Homo sapiens: one gene and its partners. The protein of the gene in region 3 purifies or fractionates together with the protein of the main gene of each other region. This does not show direct contact. Each region holds a gene or a part of one and is shown on either strand. Other genes may lie near its edges. The genes, in order: GRHL1, NKAP and RSBN1L.

Region 1 (3,651 bases), on a different chromosome or scaffold from region 3:
TCCATTTTAGGAATAATTCATTTATGGCCAAACATTTTGAGCATACATTTGAAAAGCAATCTATTCCTTTGGTCTTAGGTCCTTCCCATTGCCTCTGAAGAATTGGAGGGTGAAGGGTAAGATTTATGTTTTGTTTTGTTTTGTTTTAATAATGGAAATGATTTCAAACTTGTAGAAAAACTGCAAGTACAGTACAAAGAACTCATTTTTCCCTGAGCCATCAAGGATAAGTTGCCAGCCTGATGGCCCATCACTCCTGAATATCGTGGTATATATTTCCTACCAACAAGGACATCCTCCTGTGTCACAGTCAAGATTAGAATATTAACATTGCTTCATTAGCACCAATAATGTCCTTTATAGCAAAAAAGGATCCAGTTCAGGATCACACATTGTAGTTGTTTGTCATGTTTGTTGATCTTCTTCAGTCTAGAACTAAGCCACTCCTTAACTTTTCTGACCAAATATTTTTGAAGATTACAACCAGCTGTTTTGTAGACTCTTCTTAGTTTGCGTGTGTCTGCTGCTCTCTCATGGTTAGATTCCAGGCCTGGCAGGGATGTCATAGAGGCCAGGCTGGGTTCTCCGTGTGTCCTAGCAGATGGCGCTTGATGTCAGTTTATCTGTTACTAATGGTGTTCTTTGGTCACTTGATTAAGCTGGTATCTGCCAGCTTCTCCACTGCAAAGTGGCTCCTTTTATAGTAAGTGTTGTCTGGGGAGGTGCATTGTAGCTTTGTAAATATCTCATTCCCCATCAAACTTTCAGTTTACTCGTTCATTTATTGCTATCAGTATGAACTCATAGTTTCCTGTTTTATTCAATAAGCTGTGATTCATTAGTCATTTACTTTGATGCTCAGGTTGTCCCAGAATTGGGCTCTGCCTTCCTGTGCCGGGCAGCCCCCTACTCATGCTGCCTAGTGGAGGGGGGCTGACGCTACCCCTCTTTGGGCTATCAGAACCTTCTTGATGGCTCTGGGACTTTTTCAACAAGGCAAAGATTCTTTTTGTTTTTATTTCATTTTACTTTTAGAGACAGGGTCTTGCTCTGAGGCCCATGTAGGAGTGCAGGGGTGCAGTCACAGCTCACTGCAGCCTTGAGCTTCTGGGCTTAAGTGATCCTCCTGCCTCAGACTCCTGAGTAGGTGGGACTACAGGCACATGCCACCACACCCATCTAATTATTATTATTATTATTATTATTATTATTATTATTATTATTGTAGAGATCCTGGTCTCAGGCAATCCTCCCGCCTCAGCCTCCCTCTTTCTGTTATCTGCCCTCAGAAAGGTGCATCCTGATGGAGAGAGCCAAGATTTCCATGGGAAGTTCATTCCTCAGCATCCCTCTTCCCTCATCTTCCATCCATTCCCAGGGCTTAAACCGTCATACTGGGGACATTCATGCCCCACACGTTACCCATCGTGCCTCTCTTTGAAGGCGAGGCCTGCACTGCCCCTTTGATTCTTAGTGTTTCAGGCTTGAGTCCTGCCGGCACTTTCACTAGACGGCTGCTGTGTGTTAGGAACTGAGGTGGCAGAGTCTCGGAGGCTCAGCCCCTGCTCCTGAAGTGGCCATTCTGCTCCAAATCCAGCACTCCCTCCCTTCACTTTCAGTTATCTACCTCTTCTCTTGCTTGCCGTGACACCACCTGCTGGACCCTCCATGCCAGGTGCCCCTGGTAGCCAGGCGTTCGTTCGATCTGAGTTTTTCTCTCCTCAGACTCTCCTTGGTCTGTTCTCACCTTTTGGCTTCCATGATACCACCATATTTTAAACCTGTGGAATCCTGTGCTCGGATTATACCAGCCTCCTTCCCCTGGTTTTTCTGCTTGAAGGTCCTGGGGTCCCCTCCAGTCTTGACCACACACTTTGGGTACCAACACACTTTGGGTACCACACTCAGTCTCACAGACCTTTCAACTATTCCCTCTTCTCTGCCATGTAAAATTTAATTCCTTAGAGCTGAATGATCAGGACATTCACGGTAGAGTCGGCTTCCCGAAATTTCTAGATATGGCTTCCTGTGGGCCATTCTGTTTGAGCCAGGCTGGCCCTGCATTTTCCTGCTCACACTTCCTCAGTGTTTTGAAACATCATCTCCTTTGTCACTGCCTGTACAAGGTTATCTCAGATCCTGCCTCCTCCATAGAGTGTTTCCTGAAAAGAAGCACCAGACAGCCAGGCGTGGTGGATCATGCCTATAATTCCAGCACTTTGGGAGGCCAAGGTAGGAAGATCGCTTGAGCCCAGGAATTTGAGAACATCCTGGGCAACATAGGGAGAACCCATCTCTACAAAAATAAAAAAATTAGTTGGGTGTGGTGGTGTGCGCCACTTGGGAGGCTGAGGTGGAAGGATTGCTTGGGCCTGGGCGGTTGAGGCTGCAGTGAGCCGTGATCCATGATTGCACCACTGCACTCCAGCCTGAGCAACAGAATGAGACCCTGTCTCACAAAAAAAAAAAAAAACCAAAGCGCCTCATCTTCGAGAAGGCAGCTTTATCTGATGAGAGTGCAGATACCTGCAGGGAACCTGAGTGTGGTCCCATGTCTGCCTGTAAATATCCATGAGCCCTGGAGTCAGGATCTTCCTTTAGCCTGATTTTTCATCCACAAATAAGGAAGCTGGACCAGATAAAGAATGAAAGTCATTTTAAATCTAGTTCCATGACAGGCTCTAAAACACCTTAATGTTGATGCAGCTGGTTAAGTTGAATCACTAACGGCATATTTTGGATCACTGCAGCTCTGTCTTGAAAAGGGGGCCGTACGGCACAGAAGATGACTTTGCTGTCCCTCCTTCTACCAAGCTGGCCCGGATAGAAGAACCAAAGAGAGGTGTGTTCGTTTCCATTTCTTAGTGGGAGTTTTAAATCAGAAGTGAGTTCAGAATCTATCAAAAGCATAAATGGTTCAAGCACATTTTTCCCAGTTTCACTTGCTTGGGAATTCTTCCATCAGACTGACATCTAGCTTGAGCTAGGACTTAGAGCAAAGTTCAGAGAAGCTGAAACCTGTGTTCCTTAAGACAGAATTGATATTGGCTGATGCTTGTCATCCTTGATGTGAATGTGGTTTTTATTTTAGCTGGTACCGTGGTCTGTTTTCCTCTTTTGCTCATGTGAACTGTATCCTTTTTTTCCTCTCTTTTCCCTTCCTTATTCCTGGTTGGGGATTGATTAGTGCTGCTCTACGTTCGAAAGGAGTCAGAAGAAGTCTTTGATGCCCTGATGCTCAAAACCCCATCTTTGAAGGGCTTGATGGAAGCTGTAAGTAGGATCAACTCTGTAATCCCCTGTACAAAATGAAAGGACAAGTACATAGGATTTCATTGAAACACTTTATCAGATGATCCAAATCCTTTGTCAGACCTTCTGGAATCCCTGACACCTTTCTCGAGTCGTCGTGCGTCCCACATTTTATCCTCACCCAGGGGTCTTAACTCACACAGTCACTCAGTCACACCTGTTCCACTGAAGTGAATGCATCTGTGATGGCCTATGAAATGTTTAATTTTTATATACGTGGTTAAAGGGAGATTGCCATTTAGCAAGCCACTTAGAAGCTAACAAAAGTGATTTTTAATCAAGTACAATCTTAAAAACTTCATACATAAAAACAGTGGCTCCTCAGTCTACCTTTAAAAC
Region 2 (3,651 bases), on a different chromosome or scaffold from region 3:
TTTAAGCACGTAAAAGACAAATGGTAAAGCAGCAACTGTTCTGTCTCCTCAGAGCAAAAACCTAACAAACTACAGTCTAAAGAGATGTTGTTCTGTTGCAGAGAATTCTGAAAATGAGTATTATTCAAATTCTACAATAGTTTAGAAAAGGAGTTTCCACATCATATAATCTTTTCCTCTGAAGATCATACTTGGAGTAATTTAAATATTATCTAGAAAATTATTTTGGCTGGGTGCAGTGGCTCACGCCTGTAATCCCAGCACTTTGGGAGGCCGAGGTGGGCGGATCATGAGGTCAGGAGTTCAAGACCAGCCTGACCAACATGGTGAAACCCCATCTCTACTAAAAATACAAAAATTAGCCAGGCATGGTGGCATGCACCTGTAATCCCAGCTACTCGGGAGGCTGAGGCAGGAGAATCACTTGAACCTGGGAGGCGGAGGTTATGGTGAGCCAAGATCGCACCACTGCACTCCAGCTTGAGTGACAGAGTAAGACTCTGTCTCAAAAAAAAAAAAAAAAAAAAGAAGAAAGAAAACTATTTTTAGGGTTCCTTCCAACTCTAATTCAATACATTCAGGTTCTTCAAGTGTTTTCTTTTTTTTTTCTTTTAAATAGTCTTGTTATTTGCCCAGGCTGGTCTTGAACTCCCGGGCTCAAGGAATCCACCTGCCTTGGCCTCCCAAAGTGCTGTGATTACAGGCGTGAGCCACCGCACCTGGCCTCTTCAAGCATTTTCTAAAGGTATCTGTAAGAACAAGTTTCAGATAATAATGCTTTATTATCCAATCACAAATTACAGGTTTACCTGTCAAGCACATTGTCTCAACTCAACCTAAAGTTGGCACAGAAACAGAGAGGGAAGAAGAAACTTATGAGTAGCATCAAAGAGAAAAGAAATAAGCAAAAAGAAAAAGCATTAAGTCTGCAGATAGTATTGGATATAGGAATATTAACAAAACCATACTGGTATATTCGTTTTAAAAAATCTCTTTGTAGGCTGGGCGCAGTGGCTCACGCCTGTAATCCCAGCACTTTGGGAGGCTGAGGCAAGCGGATCACGAGGTCAGGAGCTCGAGACCAGCCTGGCCAACATGGTGAAACCGCCGTCTCTACTAAAAATACAAAAATTAGCCGGGCATGGTGGCAGGCACCTGTAATCCCAGCTACTCGGGAGGCTGAGGCAGGAGAATCGCTTGAACCCAGGAGGCGGAGGTTGCAGTGAGCTGAGACCGCACCATTGCACTCCAGCCTGGGCGACAGAGCAAGACTCCATCTCAAAAAAAAAAATCTCTTTGTAATGTTAATATCTGGCATGCAATCTGCCACTGAGTTTAGTTGAGAAAAAATAATTCAAAATAATGTGTATTATTTAACAATGAACCCTTCTATTAATAGGAAAATTATATTCCAGGAATTATTTTAGATTATGCTAAAACCTACTAGCAACATGTTTTAATCTTTAGATATGTTCTATGTTTTTAAAACTTAAGGGGTAGAAGAACATAAATCACAAGAAAGAAAAATGTGAGATATATTTAAAGTTCTTCACTTAAACATTTTCACAATAGATTCAGGATTTAAACACATATTATAACATTTTAAAAATATATTTTTTAACCACTTACTCTGGTTCAGGATTCTTTGGAGAAAGTCCCCATACTTCAGGAGCTCCCAATTCTCCAATTCTCTCTCTCTCACTTAATCTCCTAGCAGATAAAGACATGTAAATTATAACTCAATGGCTGAGTTGTTTCCTAAATATATAATCAAATTCAATAGGAGTCTAGTTAAGCCTTTTTTCCCTTTATATTTTAAACATGGATAAAAACTTGGTTTAAATGTAAACTCATCACTTAAGGTCTGATGTTCTGATGATACTATCAAATGGTACAGACTATAGAAATGATGGCCTGGGAGACTGTCAAGTGCATCCATTCTGCTGAATGCATGACACAGCTCTTAACTGCTCATTTCATCATCTGTAATATGTGACAGAAACAGCTTCACATTTGTAAGTAACTTCATTTGTTTACAGATTTATGAAAGGTGAAGAGAAGTCTCTTTTGATATGGTCAAACCTTCAGTTTTCAGAAATCGAGGAATTAATGAAGAAAATAAAAATGATGCATTAGACGTAGAAAACAACTGAAGTTCTGAAAATGAAAGAAAAGTTTTTATTTTATTTTATTATTTATTTTTTTAGATGGAGTCTCGCTCTGTCGCCCAGGCTGGAGTGCAGTAGCACGATCTTGGCTCACTGCAACCTCCGCCTCCTGGGTTCAAGTAATTCTCCTGCCTCAGCCTCCTTAGTAGCCGGGATTACAGGCATGCGCCATCACGCCTGGCTAATTTTTGTATTCTTAGTAGAGATGGGGTTTCATCGTGTTGGCCAGGCTGGTCTCAAACTCCTGACCTCAGGAGATCCACCTCAGTTGCTGGGATTACAGGCGTGAGCCACTGCACCGGGCCCGAAATAAAAGTTTTTTATTTTTTTGTAGAGATGAGGTCTTGCCGCCAGGTGCGGTGGCACATGCCTGTAATCCCAGCACTTTGGGAGGCTGAGGCGGGCGGATTGCTTGAGATCAGGAGGTCAAGACCAGCCTGGCCAACATGGTGAAACCCCGTCTCTAGTAAAAATACAAAAATTAGCCAGGCGTGGTGGCGCATGCCTGTAATCCTGGCTACTAGGGAGGCTGAGGCAGGAGAATCGCTTAAACCCAGGAGGTGGAAGTTTCAGTGAGCCAAGATCGCACCACTGCACTCTAACCTGGGAGACAGAGCGAGACTCCGTCTCAAAAAAAAAAAAGAGGTCTTGCTTTGTTGTCCAGGCTGATCTTGAACTCCTGGCCTCGAGCAATCCTCTTGCCTCAGCCTCCCAAAGCGTTGGGATCACAGGCATGAGCCACTGCACCTAGTCAAAAAGTTTCATTTAACAAAAAATATACTTGGGGCTGGGCGTGGTGGCTCACGCCTGTAATCCCAACACTTTGGGAGGCCGAGGCAGGTGGATCACCTGAGGTCAGGAGTTCAAGATCAGCCTGGCCAACATGGTAAAACCCTGTCTCTACTAAAAAAAATACAAAAATTAGCTGGACACGGTGGCATGTGCCTGTAGTCCCAGCTATTCAGAAGGCTGAGGCTGGAGAATCTCTTGAACCCTGGAGGTGGAGGTTGCAGTGAGCCAAGGTCACGCCACTGCACATGACAGCCTGGGTGATAGAGTGAGACTCTTATCTCAAAATAAAAAACCAAAAAAAAAAAAAAAAAAACTATACTCAATGAGATACAAGGTTTGTTCCCTCTCTGTTTTCCTTTTAGTTCCTTTTTGGAAAAGGAGTGCATTTTGTATCTATTCTTTGAAGGACACTAAAATTTGTTTCTTCTTTTGTTTTATGCCTATGGTTTCTTCTGTTTTAATTTTTGTTATTCCTCATAAACTAAAAAACAAAACAAAACAAAGACTAAGGCTCATTCTCTCAAATTTTAGCTGCTTGTGACTCCATTTGTTTTTAAAAATCCTTCCAAAATAAATATAATTGCAATGAGTTTTTGTATAAATCGTTTTTGCCTCCTTAATCAGGGGAAAAGGTATTATAACTATGCAGAGTCAGACTGAGAGGGTTTCCCACCTGAAGTAACAGACAATT
Region 3 (3,651 bases):
GAAGCGCTAGAACCCTGTCATACAAACTCATTACCTCTGCCAAGCCCTTCACTATGGACTGAATCATGCCTCCCCAAAATCCATATGTTGAAGCCTTAATGCCCAATGTGACTGTATCTGAAAATAAGGCTTTTCGGAGGTAACTAAGATTAAATGAGGTCAAAGGGCACAGTCCCAATCCAATAAAATTGGTAGCTTTATAAAGAGAAAAGGAAGAGATTTTTCTTTCCATTATAGGAAAAGTCATGTGAGCACACAGGAAGAAGGCAGTCACCTACAGACCAGGAAAAGAGCCCTTACCAGAACCTGGCCATGATGGCATGCTGACCTCACGCTTCCAGCCACCAGAATTATAAAAAAATTAATTTCTGTTAAGTCACCCATTCTATGGTATTTTATTATAGCAGCCCGAGTGACTAAGACACCCCTCCTCTCTCCATCATTCCACCCACAAAGAGACAGGAAAATTAAAGGACATCTATCTGAAGAAACTGAAAGCCTTCTTGCCCACCACCCAGAGAAAAGAAATGAAGATTAAAAACACAGCAGTCCATTAGTCATTAACCTTGCTCATGATCACAAAGATCTGAACAAAACCTCCAACTAAAAGAAAGCAACCAAAACAAACAGAAATAAGTAAGAAAAACCAAAAATAATAGGGAGAACAGAAGAACACCTCAAAGAAGCTGTAATTAATATCCTTGAAGAGGAAACAGAAAACGTTGCACCCATGAAAAAGGAACAAAATACTATAATACTGAAACAAAGGACAGGAGCTCTTAAAAATTCTTATTAAAGGCTTAAACTTTTCCAGGCGCAGTGGCTCACACCTGTAATACCAGCACTTTGGGAGGCCAAGGCGGGTGGATCATGAGGTCAGGAGTTGGAGACCAGCCTGGCCAACACAGTGAAACCCTATCTCTACTCAAAAATACAAAAAATTAGCTGGGTGTGGTGGTGTGCGCCTGTAGTCCCAGCTACTCAGGAGGCTGAGGCAGGAGAATCATGCGAACCTGGGAGGCAGAGGTTGCAGGGAGCCAAAACTGCATTGCACTCCAGCCTGGGCGACAGTACAAGACCGTCTCAAAAAAACAAAAGCTAAAACTTTAAAATTCAGTCAAGGCCAGCCACGGTGGCTCACGCCTATAACCCCAGCACTTTGGGAGGCCAAGGCAGACAGACCATCTGAGGCCAGGAGTTCCAGACCATCCCGGCCAACATGGAGGAACCCCATCTCTACTAAAAATACAAAAAATTAGCTGGGCGTGGTGGCGCACACCTGTAATACCAGCTACTTGGGAGGCTGAGGCAGGAGAATTGCTTGAACCCAGGAGGCAGAGACTGCAGTGAGCCAAGATCATGCCACTGCACTCCAGCCTAGGCAACAGAGCAAGACTCCATCTCAAAAAAAAAAAAAAAAGTAAAATTCAGTGAAAGTTCAGAAGGAAGAGTGAGATGTGAAGAAAAACACCAAAGAAAAAAATATATAAATTATAAAATTCAGTGAAAGGATTGACATTCCCCAGATAGTAGAATAGACAACTTTTTGGAGATCAGACGTCTTAACATCTACTTTGGGAACCAGGCAATAAGGGAACACCACCTTCAAACTTTTGAGGGAAAATTATTTCCAATGCAGAAATCTCTTAACTGCCAGTCAAGTAAAAGGATAAAAATGAAATCCAAAATGAAAATCCAAAATGAAGGAAGAAACCAAAAGGAAGGCATGAGATCCGGAAAAATAAAATTCAACAAAAGTTAAAGAAATTCCCAGAATGTCAACTAAGGAAAGTCCCAAGGTGACAGCTATGCAGCAGGCCTAAAGAGGAAACAACCCAGGCTAAAGCAGTAAGGACAGCTACAGAAGGGATGTCGTTTTTTTTTGTTGTTGTTGTTGTTGTTGTTTTTTTTTTTTTTTTTTTGAGCCAGAGTCTTGCTCTGTCGCCCAGGCTGGAGTACAGTGACGCCATCTCAGCTTACTGTAACCTCCGCCTCCTGGGTTCAAGCGATGCCTCAGCCTCCCAGGTAGCTGAGACTATAGGTGCGTGCCGCCACACCCGGCTAATTTTTTGTATTTTTAGTAGAGATGGGGTTTCACCGTGTTGCCCAGGCTAGTGTTGAACTCCTGAGCTCAGGCGATTCGCCAGCTTCAGCCTCCCGAAGTGCTGGGATTACAGGCGTGAGCCACCGCGCCCGGCCCCAGAAGGGATGTCTACAGGAACAAATGGAATGGGTAAGTTTATCTGACAGATTTGCCCATGTGGAAAATTGTACTGAGAAGCATTTTATGGAGCTACTGGAGGGTACAGAAAGACTCTGCCAGAGAAAACTAAGCAAATGAAAAAAATGAGACATGAAAAACAAAAGGTTACACAAGAAAATAAAATCATAGTAAATTATTCCCTCAGCAGAGACAAATATTTAGTCATATGATAAAAACTCTGAATATGAATTTAACCTAAAATTGTACAGTAACAATACTGGAGGAGAGTGTAGTTAGAAAAATCTTCAGACACCCATCCCTTTGACATCACTCACATTTATATACCTCAAATTATTTGATTCTAAGAAAAGCTGCTATTTTCATTAGAGTTAAATCCTGCAACTACACTTTCAAGGCAAAAATTCAGTGAAATGCTCTGGTTTTGTCTTGAAATACTTCACAGGGTCATTTTAAGGAAAAAAGTAAGTTAACAAATACAAAGCAAAAGTACTAACAAAAGTTAGAAGATCTATACAAATTTTGCTGGTTACTGGAGTCAGTGAAGGCACACTGACAGCTAATGAAATATTTGTTGTGGTTTGCCATAAAATAATTCTAAATTTTGGATACCCTTGGTATATGTCCACTTTTACTTTCCACACTTACCAATTCTACAATTTATTCAGTCTTACAGGAATATTGATTAACTCTCCAGTAAATTACCTCCGTAAGCACTAAAATCAGGTTATTTTCTGGTTTTAAAAATCTAAAATGTTGGCCAGGCACGGTGGCTCACGCCTGTAATCTCAGCACTTTGGGAGGCCAAGGCAGGCAGATCACAAGGTCAGGAGTTTGAGACCAGCCTGGCCAACATGGTGAAACCCCCTCTCTACTAAAAATACAAAAATTAGCCAGGCGTGTTGGCGAGTGCCTATAATTCCAGCCACTCGGGAGGCTGAGGCAGGAGAATTGCTTGAACCCGGGAGGCGGAGGTTGCAGCGAGCCGAGATCGCGCCACTGCACTCCAACCTGGCCAACAAGAGCGAGACTCTGTTTCCAAAAAAAAAAAAAAAATCTAAACTGTTTTGCACTTTTCCTTCTTATAAGAAATTTAACTTTTACTTGGTGAGTCAAGCTATCACGCAAGTCAGCTACAGTACTATGATTAGATGGCCTTAGAGATTGTGAGGCATCAGGCCCTGGTACTAAATGGGGCCATATTAGTATACTTTCATAATTCTCTTGTTCAGCATTCTTAACTTTCATATCTGTCAATGATCCTTCCTCTATCAGCATTCACCCATCTTTCAATTAGTTATAGGGTTAAAAAATTAATAACTATGCTTCAGACTCAAATAACATTTACTAAATACCCTGCTAGGCCCTTTCTTATACATGCTTTCATTTAACCCAAATACGTTCTGTTAGAATGGTCACCAATGTAAAAA

What was found.
Region 1: the proteins of RSBN1L (region 3) and GRHL1 purify together in Homo sapiens (co-immunoprecipitation; one large-scale study listed by IntAct). This does not show direct contact.
Region 2: the proteins of RSBN1L (region 3) and NKAP purify together in Homo sapiens (affinity purification with mass spectrometry; one large-scale study listed by BioGRID and IntAct). This does not show direct contact.

The regions. Positions count from the first base shown.
Region 1 is NC_000002.12:9,993,129-9,996,779, forward strand, and holds part of GRHL1 (grainyhead-like protein 1 homolog), read left to right. Parts: exon of another isoform or gene 1-78; coding exon 79-116; exon of another isoform or gene 117-2,750; coding exon 2,751-2,842; exon of another isoform or gene 2,843-3,187; coding exon 3,188-3,273; exon of another isoform or gene 3,274-3,299; intron 3,300-3,651. UniProt on the Homo sapiens protein: Transcription factor involved in epithelial development. Binds directly to the consensus DNA sequence 5'-AACCGGTT-3'.
Region 2 is NC_000023.11:119,937,101-119,940,751, forward strand, and holds part of NKAP (NF-kappa-B-activating protein), read right to left. Parts: intron 1,711-3,651; coding exon 1,630-1,710; intron 1-1,629. UniProt on the Homo sapiens protein: Acts as a transcriptional repressor. Plays a role as a transcriptional corepressor of the Notch-mediated signaling required for T-cell development. Also involved in the TNF and IL-1 induced NF-kappa-B activation.
Region 3 is NC_000007.14:77,699,423-77,703,073, reverse strand, and holds part of RSBN1L (lysine-specific demethylase RSBN1L), read right to left. Parts: intron 1-3,651. UniProt on the Homo sapiens protein: Lysine-specific demethylase that specifically demethylates methylated lysine residues of proteins.